3 linked regions of the Homo sapiens genome follow. The protein of the gene in region 2 purifies or fractionates together with the protein of the main gene of each other region. This does not show direct contact. Each region holds a gene or a part of one and is shown on either strand. Other genes may lie near its edges. The genes, in order: FCSK, INF2 and AHR.

The links.
Region 1: the proteins of INF2 (region 2) and FCSK purify together in Homo sapiens (affinity purification with mass spectrometry; one large-scale study listed by BioGRID and IntAct). This does not show direct contact.
Region 3: the proteins of INF2 (region 2) and AHR purify together in Homo sapiens (affinity purification with mass spectrometry; one large-scale study listed by BioGRID and IntAct). This does not show direct contact.

Annotation. Positions count from the first base shown.
Region 1 is NC_000016.10:70,468,010-70,471,657, forward strand, and holds part of FCSK (L-fucose kinase), read left to right. Parts: intron 1-839; coding exon 840-959; intron 960-1,142; coding exon 1,143-1,314; intron 1,315-2,304; coding exon 2,305-2,417; intron 2,418-2,961; coding exon 2,962-3,063; intron 3,064-3,172; coding exon 3,173-3,343; intron 3,344-3,648.
Region 2 is NC_000014.9:104,699,520-104,703,167, reverse strand, and holds part of INF2 (inverted formin-2), read right to left. Parts: intron 1,812-3,648; 5' UTR 1,803-1,811; coding exon 1,412-1,802; intron 64-1,411; coding exon 1-63.
Region 3 is NC_000007.14:17,329,518-17,333,165, forward strand, and holds part of AHR (aryl hydrocarbon receptor), read left to right. Parts: intron 1-434; coding exon 435-558; intron 559-1,238; coding exon 1,239-1,369; intron 1,370-3,648. UniProt on the Homo sapiens protein: Ligand-activated transcription factor that enables cells to adapt to changing conditions by sensing compounds from the environment, diet, microbiome and cellular metabolism, and which plays important roles in development, immunity and cancer.

The sequences.
Region 1 (3,648 bases), on a different chromosome or scaffold from region 2:
GGGACAGGGAGGGAGGGTCTGACTTCCTTCGATTCCTTCTAGAAGCCTCCAGGACAAGCTAGAGCTAGAATCTGAGGACAGGGTAGCCTTGGAATTCAGGGTCTTGTCCTGAGCCAGAAAGCCTAGAACCAGGCGGGCACGGTGGCTAACGCCTGTAATCCCAGCACTTTAGGAGGCTGAGGCGGGTGGATCAGTTGAGGTCAGGAGTTCGAGACCAGTCTGGGCAACGTGGTGAAACCCTGTCTCTACTAAATACAACAATTAGCTGAGCATGGTGGTGTGTGCCTGTAATCCCAACTACTTGAGAGGTAGAGGCTCGAGAATCGCTTGAACCCAGGAGGCGGAGGTTGCGGTGAGCAGAGATCGTGCCACTGCACTTCAGCCAGGGTGACAGAGCGAGACTCTGAATCAATCCCCTGCCCGCTGTAAAACAAAACAAAGCAAACCTCAAAAACTCAAACGAAAAAAGAAAGCCTAGAACCAGAATGTGAGCAAGTTAGGGAGTGCGGTTGGGAGGAGGCCTAGAGCCAGACTCCGGGAATGCTTCCATCATGAGGGGCAAGGATTGGAGAGGCATGGAGATCTGGGAGTGGACCATGGCGAGGGTGGAGAACTGGGTTCAGGAGAAGGCCTGACAGTTGAGGGTGTCCCAGAAGGTGTCTTGGTGGGAGCTACCCCAAGTAAGCCTGGAGTCTGGCTGCTGGAGTGGTCAGAAGGTGACACTCCCTGCCTGGTATGGCACTCAGCTTCATGTGGCCCATCTGCATGTGCCCTCCCTGACTTGTACCAGGGCCTGGTCCAGGGCCCTCCATCTCTGATCCTTTTGGGGTCCCTTCCAGGTCTCTGGGGTTGTCTTCTTCTCTGTGGAGACTGCCGAGCGCCTCCTAGCCACCCACGTGAGCCCGCCCCTGGATGCCTGCACCTACCTAGGCTTGGACTCCGGAGCCCGGCCTGTCCAGGTGACTGGGGGAGGGCAGCTAGGTGGGGCCTGGCTTGGGGGCGAGGCACTGTGTGACCTCAGGCCAGCCACTTCCCCTCTCTGGGGCAGAGTCTCCGCAGACGGGACTGCCCTGGTTCAGCCTCAGAACTTGGGGGCTGAACCCCTGCCATGCCAATAGCTGTGCTTCTTCCCCTTCCCCTAGCTGTCTCTGTTTTTTGACATTCTCCACTGCATGGCTGAGAACGTGACCAGGGAGGACTTCCTGGTGGGGAGGCCCCCAGAGTTGGGGCAAGGCGATGCAGATGTAGCGGGTTATCTGCAGAGCGCCCGGGCCCAGCTGTGGAGGGAGCTTCGCGATCAGCCCCTTACCATGGGTGGGTACTGCCTCTCAGCTCCCTGGGGTGGGGAGACCATGGGAGTGAGGACCCCAAGAATGGAGCTGCTCACTGCATGCTGGGCCAGGCAGCCCAGCACAGGGACTGGGCAGTTCTCCTGTCCTGTGCCAGAGCCCCCCACTGAGCTACCTCCTTCCCCTTCTTGTCTTCCTTTTGTCTCATTCCTGGGCTCTCCCAGCCTGTCCACTTTTGTTTCTGTTTTTTTTTGTTTGTTTGTTTTGTTTTTTGAGACGGACTCTCTCTTTGTCGCCCCGGCTAGAGTGAGGTGGTGCGATCTCAGCTCACTGCAACCTCCGCCTCCTGGGTTCAAGCAATTCTCCTGCCTCAGCCTCCTGCGTACCTGGGATAATAGCCATGCATCATCACACTTGGCTAATTTTTCTATTTTTAGTTGGTCAGGCTGGTCTTGAACTCCTGGCCTCAGGTGACCCGCCTGCCTTGGCCTCCCGAAGTGCTGGGCTTACAGGCATGAGCCACCATGCCCGGCCCTAACCTGTCTGCTTTCTTTTTTTTTTTTTGAGACAGAGTATGGCTCTGTTGCCCAGGCTGGAGTGCAGTGGCGTAATTTCGGCTCACTGCAACCTCTGCGTCTCAGGTTCAAGCGATTCTCCTGCCTCAGCTGCCTGAGTAGCTGGGATTACAGGTGCGTGGCACCATGCCTGGCTAATTTTTGTATTTTTAGTAAAGATGGGATTTCACCATGTTGGTCAGGCTGGTCTCGAACTCCTGACCTCGTGATCTGCCTGCCTCGGCCTCCCAAAGTGCTGGGATTACAGGCGTGAGCCACTGTGCCCGGCCAACCTGTCTACTTTCTAGCTGTGTTGTGTGGCTTTGGGCAGGTTCCTGACTCAGCTTCCCCTAACAGGCTCATGGCCACACCTGCCCCCATGTGTCTCTGCTGCTGGGAGGCAGCCTGGCCCCTGAGTCGCAGCAGGCATGGGGTTGGGTTCAGTACTTATGTCTTTACAGCCTATGTCTCCAGCGGCAGCTACAGCTACATGACCTCCTCAGCCAGTGAGTTCCTGCTCAGCCTCACACTCCCCGGGGCTCCTGGGGCCCAGATTGTGCACTCCCAGGTGGAGGTGAGACCTCCCTGCCCCTCCGGTGCCTGCTGGTTGTCTGGGGTCAGGTGGGATGTGGATTCCCGGGAAGAAAATAGCCGGCACTTGGAACAGATGACCCGAGTGCAGGTGTTACCCTGGTTTACACATGAAGTGCTGGAGGCTCAGAGAGGCTAAGTAACTTGCCTAAGGCCACAGAGCCAGTAAGTGGCCAACTCAGGATTCTGCATTGAGCTTGCCTGATTGAGAAGCTAAAGGAGACCTTTATTTGGGGTCTGCCTGGGGTGACAGTGGTGGGCCTGGGTCAGTGCCGTGCTGCTGAGGAAGGGGACAGGTAGGGTTCAGAGGTGGCCCCCAGGGTGGCAAGGTTGGGCGTAGTTGGACAGGTGGGATGGAAATAGGTCTCAGGCTGGGGCCAAGGCAGGTCCAGAGAGGAGTCTAGGGTGCTGCAGGGCAGGGGAGCAGTAGGCCTGGACGCTTTGCCCCTGGATGCTTGGCTTGGGAGGAGAGCTGGGGCAGCCCTGGGCCTCGACCCCCCTCATGCTCCTCCTACCTGGCTGCACAGGAGCAGCAGCTTCTGGCGGCCGGGAGCTCTGTGGTCAGCTGCCTGCTGGAGGGCCCTGTCCAGCTGGGTCCTGGGAGCGTCCTGCAGCACTGCCACCTGCAGGTGAGGCCTGAGCGTGTGGGCAGATTGGGGCGAGGGTGCTGGCATCCCGCATGTGTTGGGGGGTGTTGGGTGCCTGCCCACCCAGGATGCCTGCCCTGTCCCCCACCAGGGCCCCATTCACATAGGCGCTGGCTGCTTGGTGACTGGCCTGGATACAGCCCACTCCAAGGCCCTGCATGGCCGGGAGCTGCGTGACCTTGTCCTGCAGGGACACCACACGCGGCTACACGGCTCCCCGGGCCACGCCTTCACCCTCGTTGGCCGTCTGGACAGCTGGGAGGTAGGCAGTCACCCTGCATTCCCTCACCCCCATCTTCAGGCTTTGGGGAGCCCAAGGAGTCCTGGCCCCCACCCCACTGCGGGGTTCTCTGAGCACTGGCCCGTGGGACAGGCTGTGAGGAGGGTCGGATGTAGGGAGGAGAGAATGAGGGAGGAGATAGGGTGAAGATAGGCTGTGAGACCAGCAGAGTCTCCACAGGCCTTTACCTCCCTCCTTGCATCTGCTCTGCCAGGTGGGCTGGGTGGGGATTTTGTTTTTTTTCTGGAGATAGAGTCTTGCTCTATCACCAAGGCTGGAGTGCAGTG
Region 2 (3,648 bases):
TGCACAGGGCAGCCAGTAGCTCAAACACCTGCTTCTTCACCATCACGTTGGATGTGTCCAGGGCTGCCAGGGTGGAGTGGGCAGGCTCAGCAGGGCCAATGCACCCCTTCCCATGCCTGTGCAGCTGGGCTCAGGGCTGGGGCTCTGGGCCTGGCAGGCAGACGCCAGGGGGTGCCGGGCACTTGTCTGTGGCCCACAGCAGTGGGCTGGGACCCAACGAGGTGCCCCACTCCTCGGTGTCCTGGCCCTGCTCCTGGACCACAGGGCCAGACCCTGCAGGGAAGGGCTTGGAGGCAGCTGCCCCATCCTGTCACTGGCTCTGGGCCCAGCTTTTCTCCCAATGCAGCACTTACTGTGTTTATGGCAGACACAACCTCATTCCTATGAACCCCTGCCTCCCACCCCATCTGGAGCTGTGAAAGTTCTGGGGGTGTCTCTCATCTGACCCTGCTGAGAACAATTCACAAAAGACTCCATAGAGGGGCCCTGCCAGGCCCAGGCTGGGGAGACGGGCTGAGAATGGCTGGCCCCTACACCTGCCTCTGTCCCCTGGGTCCGACAGAAACGAGGCGCCTCTGGCTTGCTTGCCTGCACAGGTAACTGCCGCCCCCATGGGCCCAGCCCCGCCCATCACTGCCCACCCTAGCTCGTCCCCAAGCATCGGTAGGACCTGGCAGCAGCCATGGAGTGGCACAGCAAGGGTTTCTCTCAAGGGACCGGGACTAACTTTGGGCACAGCCTGGGGAGACTTCCTGGAGGACAGGAAAGTGAGCTGGGGCTTAAAGGCTTAGCGGCGCAGGACCTTGGAGGACGCAAAGGCAGAAAACACGAGCAGAGGCAGAGACCAAGGGCCTGCCTGCCTGCCGGGAACGAGTCCCCTGGGTGCTGGAGTAGGGGACAGGGCGGGGAGGGAGGCGCTAGGGAAGGCGCTGGGAGGTGGAGGGTGACACCATCAGTAGGTGTGGGCCAGACCTCAAGGGCTCTGTCTGGGCTGAGGCTGAAGGGCTTGGAGCTAGGCAGGTGTATGTAGGGAGCCACTCGGGTGGATTCGCATCTCTGACTCAGTGACTCCTGCCGCCGAGGTGTGGACGAGGGCAGAGAGCCCAGAGGGTGGGAGCCAGCACAGGACGGGGAGGAAGGGTGGGGCAGAGCCACACAACAGAGAGGGGCACAGGGGGACCGCTGGTGCAGCAGTGCGGGGACTGGGGTGACCTGGAAGCCTCAGACTCGGAGTGAATGTGGATGTTTTTCCTGAGCCCAGGAAGCCAGTCCTCCTCCAGGAAGCCCTCCTTGCCTGCCTGGCTGCGCTTCCTCCTGGTGGTTCCCCAGGCCTCCCGGGGCCTTTTGGGCCTGAAGCCTCATACCAGGTCCCCAGCGTCCGCCTGGGCGGCCCTCCCACACTGCGGCTCACCCTGGGAGAGCTGGCGCACGTAGCCCTGGTTGCTGAGGATGTACTCGATGCCCTGCCGCGAGTTCATGACGGCGCGCACGCAGCTGACGCAGGTGAGCTGCAGCAGGGCGTCGGAGATACGTGCAACGCCGCGGCCCGACAGCCGCGCCAGCGCCTCCAGCAGCAGGTCCAGGCCGCTCTGCTCCAGGAACTGCACCATCCAGCCGCCGTCGCTGCCCTCCAGGCGCTTGCGCAGGCCGGAGTAGTTGACCACAGAGGGCATCTGGAGCAGCCGGATGCACAGCTCGGGGTCCGCGCTCTCCAGGTTGGCCTCCGTGGGGTCCGAATCCTGTGGCCCCAGCTTCTCCTTCAGCGCTGCCCACTTGCGCTGTGCGCCCTCCTTCACCGACATCTTGCCGAGCTGCAGGCAGAGGGCAGGGAGCCGTCAGCGGGGAGGGGATGGGGGCTGTCCTCCTGGCCACCAGCGCAGGCGGGGCCACTTCCCTCGGTCTCAGTTTCTCTGCTGCAATTCCTGCTCACGTGCCATGCTGAGGGTTAGGGGTAGCACTGTGTCCCCCACTATATCTTAGGCTTCCCTGTACCCATCCCTGACCGAATTTCAGCAACCGAGGCGGCAGGCAGGAAGGGCCCTACTGCGCGCATGAGGACCCCGAGGCTCAGGGCTGGGAGGGGAGGAGCCGGCTCAGAAACCTGCAGCACGAGGCCAGCACGGCCCCTGCAGAGTGACGGGACCGGATGAGCTTGGGGAGGACTCGGGGGAGCGGGAGGCTCCCCTGGCTGGAACATTACCCACGGTAATGATGCGACAAAACGGCGCATCTGAGGCTGCCTTATCTCACCCCAGGGCACTTCCCCCGCCCCAGTGGACAATATGGACAGGGAGATTCCAAACCTCAGGCATGCCTGGGGTGCCCACAGCGTCAGCAGCGTGGCTGGGGAGGAGGGGCGACTCCCAGGTCTCCCCTGGGCCTCAGTCTGCCCGTCTGCATGTGGGTAGGGGGCCCACACCAACAGGAAGACGGAAACCCTTGGCACTCAGGGTTTTACCAGGATTCAGTCGCAACAGGTCTGACTCCAGCCCTGGGAACACCCGGGTAGGTAACAGGCCCAGCCCAGAAGAGCCCCAACACGTGCCTTTCCCCAAAACAGAACAGCAGGACAGGCGGGTTGCACCTCTGACATCAGCTCCACGCCACCACATCCCCCCAGCCGCTGTCCCCAACCACAGACCCTGGGAACTGGCCTCGAAGGTCAGGGGCATCCCAGGCCCTCCTGCAACCATGTATGGCTTAGATCTTATATTTAGCGTCTGAGAACAGCAGCGTGGAGCCTCGGGGAGGGAGCTAGGGGGCCGGGCCTGGCAGGGACACGCTCTGAGCCTCCACCCCGGCCCAGCACTCTCCACCCTGGCCCTCGGCTTCCCACCACCTCCAAGGCAGGCACTTTATACCTCCCACAACAGGTGGGGAACTGGAGGCGGCTGGGTCCTAGAGAAGCTGGGTCTGTGCCCACAGTCCCACACCTGGGCACGGCTGGGCTGTGACTGGAGGTCCCACATGGCTTTGCTTCAAGTGCTGCCCAACCCGGTAAGTCAGGGGACCCCAGGCTGAAGGGCATTTGAGGTCACGGGAGCTGAGCGGGGTCGAGCACCCAAGCGCCTGCCTCCCCAGGAGGCTCTATTCCTCCCCTCCTGCCTTGGGAGAGTGTCCTGGAGCACCTGCCCTTGAGGTCTCAGGCCCACTCCCCAGCCTGGTCCACGACCAAGCCTGGTGTTTCCGGCAGTCCAGCCCCTACTCCCCGCACCGCCCCTCAGCCCTCCACCTGTCCAACTGCCCCAGGGGGCCAGTGGGCTCCTTCCAGGAGGCAGCCTGACAGGTGTAAGCCAGGGTTCTGATCTGCATGTCCCCAGCCCGGGCCCTCACCAGCAGACCTTGGCCCAGTCACTCATCCTGCCTGGGCCTCAGTTTCTTCTTCTGCACCTCCAGCACCAGGCTGCCAGGAGCATCCTGAGAGGCTGTCCTTGGGATGCCCCTCCTCCCTGCAGGGGGTCCTGGTCTGGGCACTGTAGAACGGAGAGCCCGGAGCCCCCGGTGCACTGTGGTTTTAAGCCACCCTCCCAGGCCCGGCCCTCTTGGTCACCCAGTGGCCGTCCACTCACCCAGATGCGCAAGACCTTCCGGCCACCTCTGCCCACCCACTCTGGGCCCTGTCCTGGGCTGCTCCTCACGCTCCCCTGG
Region 3 (3,648 bases), on a different chromosome or scaffold from region 2:
TGAAGAAAATTTTAGAGAACAGTGAAGGAAATACATAAAGAATACCATTAAGCTTAGAGAAGTCAAAGAGGCCTGGGGTGGTTAGGAAAAGCTGCATGGAAGAGATAAGAATCTAAAAACTAACAAATGAATATGGAACATAAACAGATTTTAATATGTTGCATTTAAGGAATGGGGATGTGACTTATTTGAGCAAGAGCATTCATGTTGGGAACTGATGACAAGTAACTTTTGGCTTATCTGTTGTAGTGCCAGTCTCTTTAGCTTTTTCTACCTTAGGTTCTATCTTAGGTGACTAGGGAATTTTAGGAATCATTCAATTCGTATTCATCACCACTAGCAAGCACCCACTAATCTAAATAGGCTTTAAAATTAATTTAGCCATATTTTTTAATCAGTCCTTTTGTTGTATTCCTTGTATCTTTTTTCTTTAGTCTGATGTCATACATCAGAGTGTATATGAACTTATCCATACCGAAGACCGAGCTGAATTTCAGCGTCAGCTACACTGGGCATTAAATCCTTCTCAGTGTACAGAGTCTGGACAAGGAATTGAAGGTAAGAATTGATGGTACAAAAAATAGTGTTGGTAGTTTTTAAATATGAGTCTGTGAAAGGAGGCTGGGAACCTGTAGGGTCATAGAACTCCATGATAGGGAAGTAGTGGAAAGATGTAAAGTCTGCAATCATAGGCCACAGCTAGGTCACAAAGAGCCTGATGAGCTAAGGAATATTTTGGCAAATGAGAGCCATTTAATGAGTTTCAGGCAACAGAGTATTGCCATAGTCAGTAATGTATTTTATAAAAATAAGTAGTACCTTCATGAAAGATGGAAGGAAGGTACAAGGTTGATACCTGAGTGCATGTAAATTATTGTGTTTAAAATGCACCAAAGAAAAAAGTAAGCTAGCATATGCAAGTATAAAAATGCTTTTCTCAATGCAAAAAATGTTTTTGGAAATTTGTTAAAGTGTTAAGAAAACAAAAATGCATTAGAAAATATGAAAATTGTTGACAGTGATAGCTCAATAAAAATTTAAAAAATTATGCAAGTTCTATCTGATAAAAGTGATATTTAATAAACTTTTAGTTTCTTGTCATTAGCTCTTTTGAAAATGATTTTTTTGTATTCAGAACACAGACTCCAGTTTAGAAACTAATACAAATTTTACCTATTCAAGTGCTTAATTTTACAGCAAAATGGAAAGTAAATTTTGTTTTGCCTTTATTTCTACAGAAGCCACTGGTCTCCCCCAGACAGTAGTCTGTTATAACCCAGACCAGATTCCTCCAGAAAACTCTCCTTTAATGGAGAGGTGCTTCATATGTCGTCTAAGGTGTCTGCTGGATAATTCATCTGGTTTTCTGGTAAGGTACAAAATTTTATGATACTGGCTTTTACTATTGTTACAATAAAAGCTTGAGGCAAATTTAATTTAGCAAAATATAATTCAGCAGAGAACTATTCCCAAATCAGGCAACCCTCAGAACCAGAGAGCTTCAGAGAGCTCACTTAAAAACATGGGCTGGAGCATTTATGAACAGAAAATGCAAGTGAGGTACAGAAATGGCTTGATTGATTACAGCTTGGGATTTGCCTTATTTGAAGATGATCTGATTAGTTGGCCACCTGTGACTGACTGAGACTCAGCTATTTGGTTACAAAAGTTTAATTCTACTGTTAGGCTTTCCGTTAGCTTATATAGTAAATGAAGTTGCAATTCCTTGGTAAGGACTTAAGGAGCAGAGGCATCTTCAGCCCAAATTTAGTTTAACATTAAGTTATAGAAAAAACAAGCCAATTTTCTTTGGTTATCTTTGATTTCAGCTTTAAAAATCTGCTACCAAATAATTTGATAAAGGAAAGTAACATTTTAAAGTAATTATTTCTGATTTTGACTATCTTCTATAACTCAGAAAACTGTTCTTTAGGATATAGTAACAAAAATTGAGTGAAATAACACGAAGCCTTGTATTTTGACTATTTTAGGATTTTTAAGGTATGAGAGAATTATGTAGCCCTTTTTTAATAGGAGGATGCTTACCATCTTGGGATTGAATGCCTGCTAGACAGAGAAATTATGGCCTTTCCATATGTCTCAAATAACTGCCACATAGAAAAACGATTGTATATTCATGATTGTGGAATCATCATTTGATAGGAGATGCTGTTTTCTTGTTACAAAGTCTGAACACCTGCATAGGAGTTGACTGTAGGGAACAGCTTAGGATTCCTCAGAGTGGACTTGTCTGTTATCTCATTGTATCCTTAGCTCATGTTACCAAGTACAGGAGAAGAAAATACAAAGTATATTGTATATTCTTTTTGTGAATAACAAGGAATTTGAAACAGATAATCAAATCTTAAATTAACATTACCAAGCAATGATTTTTGTTTATGTGTTTATTTCTGAAGAGGATTTTGCTGACCCAGAATTAGAATTATGCTTTGAGACAGTTTTCCCAGTGTTATTGCTCATGAACAATTAGTATGTAGAGTCATGTCCTGCATAATGATGCTTTGGTCAATAACAGACCATGTATATGATGGTAGTCCCATGAGATCATAATGGAGCCGAAAAATCCCTATCACTTAATGATGTCATAGCATTGCTCACATGTTGATGGTGATGCTGATGGAAGCAAACCTGTGTTGCCAGTCATATAAAAAGTATAGCACATACAATTATATATGATACATAATACTTGAAAATAAAACAATAATAAATCACTATGTATTTACTATTAATCATTATTTTACTTTATTTTTAAATGTATTATACTTTTAATTATTTTATTTTAATCATTATTTTAGAATAAGGTTAACTGTAAAACAGGCTCAGGCAGGTCCTTCAGGAAATATTCCAAAAGAAGGCATTGTTATCACAGGAGATGACAGCTCCATGCATGTTATTGCCCCCGCAGACCTTCCAGTGGGACAAGATGTAGAGGTGGAAGATAGGATCATTAATGATCCTCACCCTGTACAGACCTAAGCTAATGTGTGGGTTTGTGTCTTAGTTTTTAACAAAAAAAGTTTAAAAAGTAAAAAAATTAAAAATTAAAAAATAGAAGAAAGCTTATAGAATAAGGATATAAAGAAAGAAAATGTTTTTGTATGGCTGTACACTGTGTTTAAGTGTTATTACAGAAGAGTCAAAAGTTAAAAATGCAAAAGTTTATGAAGTAAAAATGTTACAGTAAACTGTGCTGGGATTACAGGCATAAGCCACTGCACCTGGCCAAAAGGAAAATATTTTTTATAAATTCAGCGTAGCCTAAGTGTATAGTGTTTATAAACTCTATAGTAGTGTACGGTAATGTCTCAGGCCTTCACATTCACTCACCACTCACTCACTGACTAAACCAAAGCAACTTTCAGTCCTGCCTACCTTGTTTACAATAAGTGCTCTTATACAGGTATACCATTTTTTGTCTTTTATACTGTATTTTTACTGTATATTTTCTATGTTTAGATACACAAATACTTACCATCATGTTACAATTGCTTTAAGTATTCAGTACGATAGCATGCTGTACAGGTTTGTAGCCTAGGAACAAAAGGCTATACTGTATAGCTTAGATGCGTAGTAAGCTATACCATCTAGGTTTGTGAACCTACCCTCTGATGTTCACAGGATAATGAA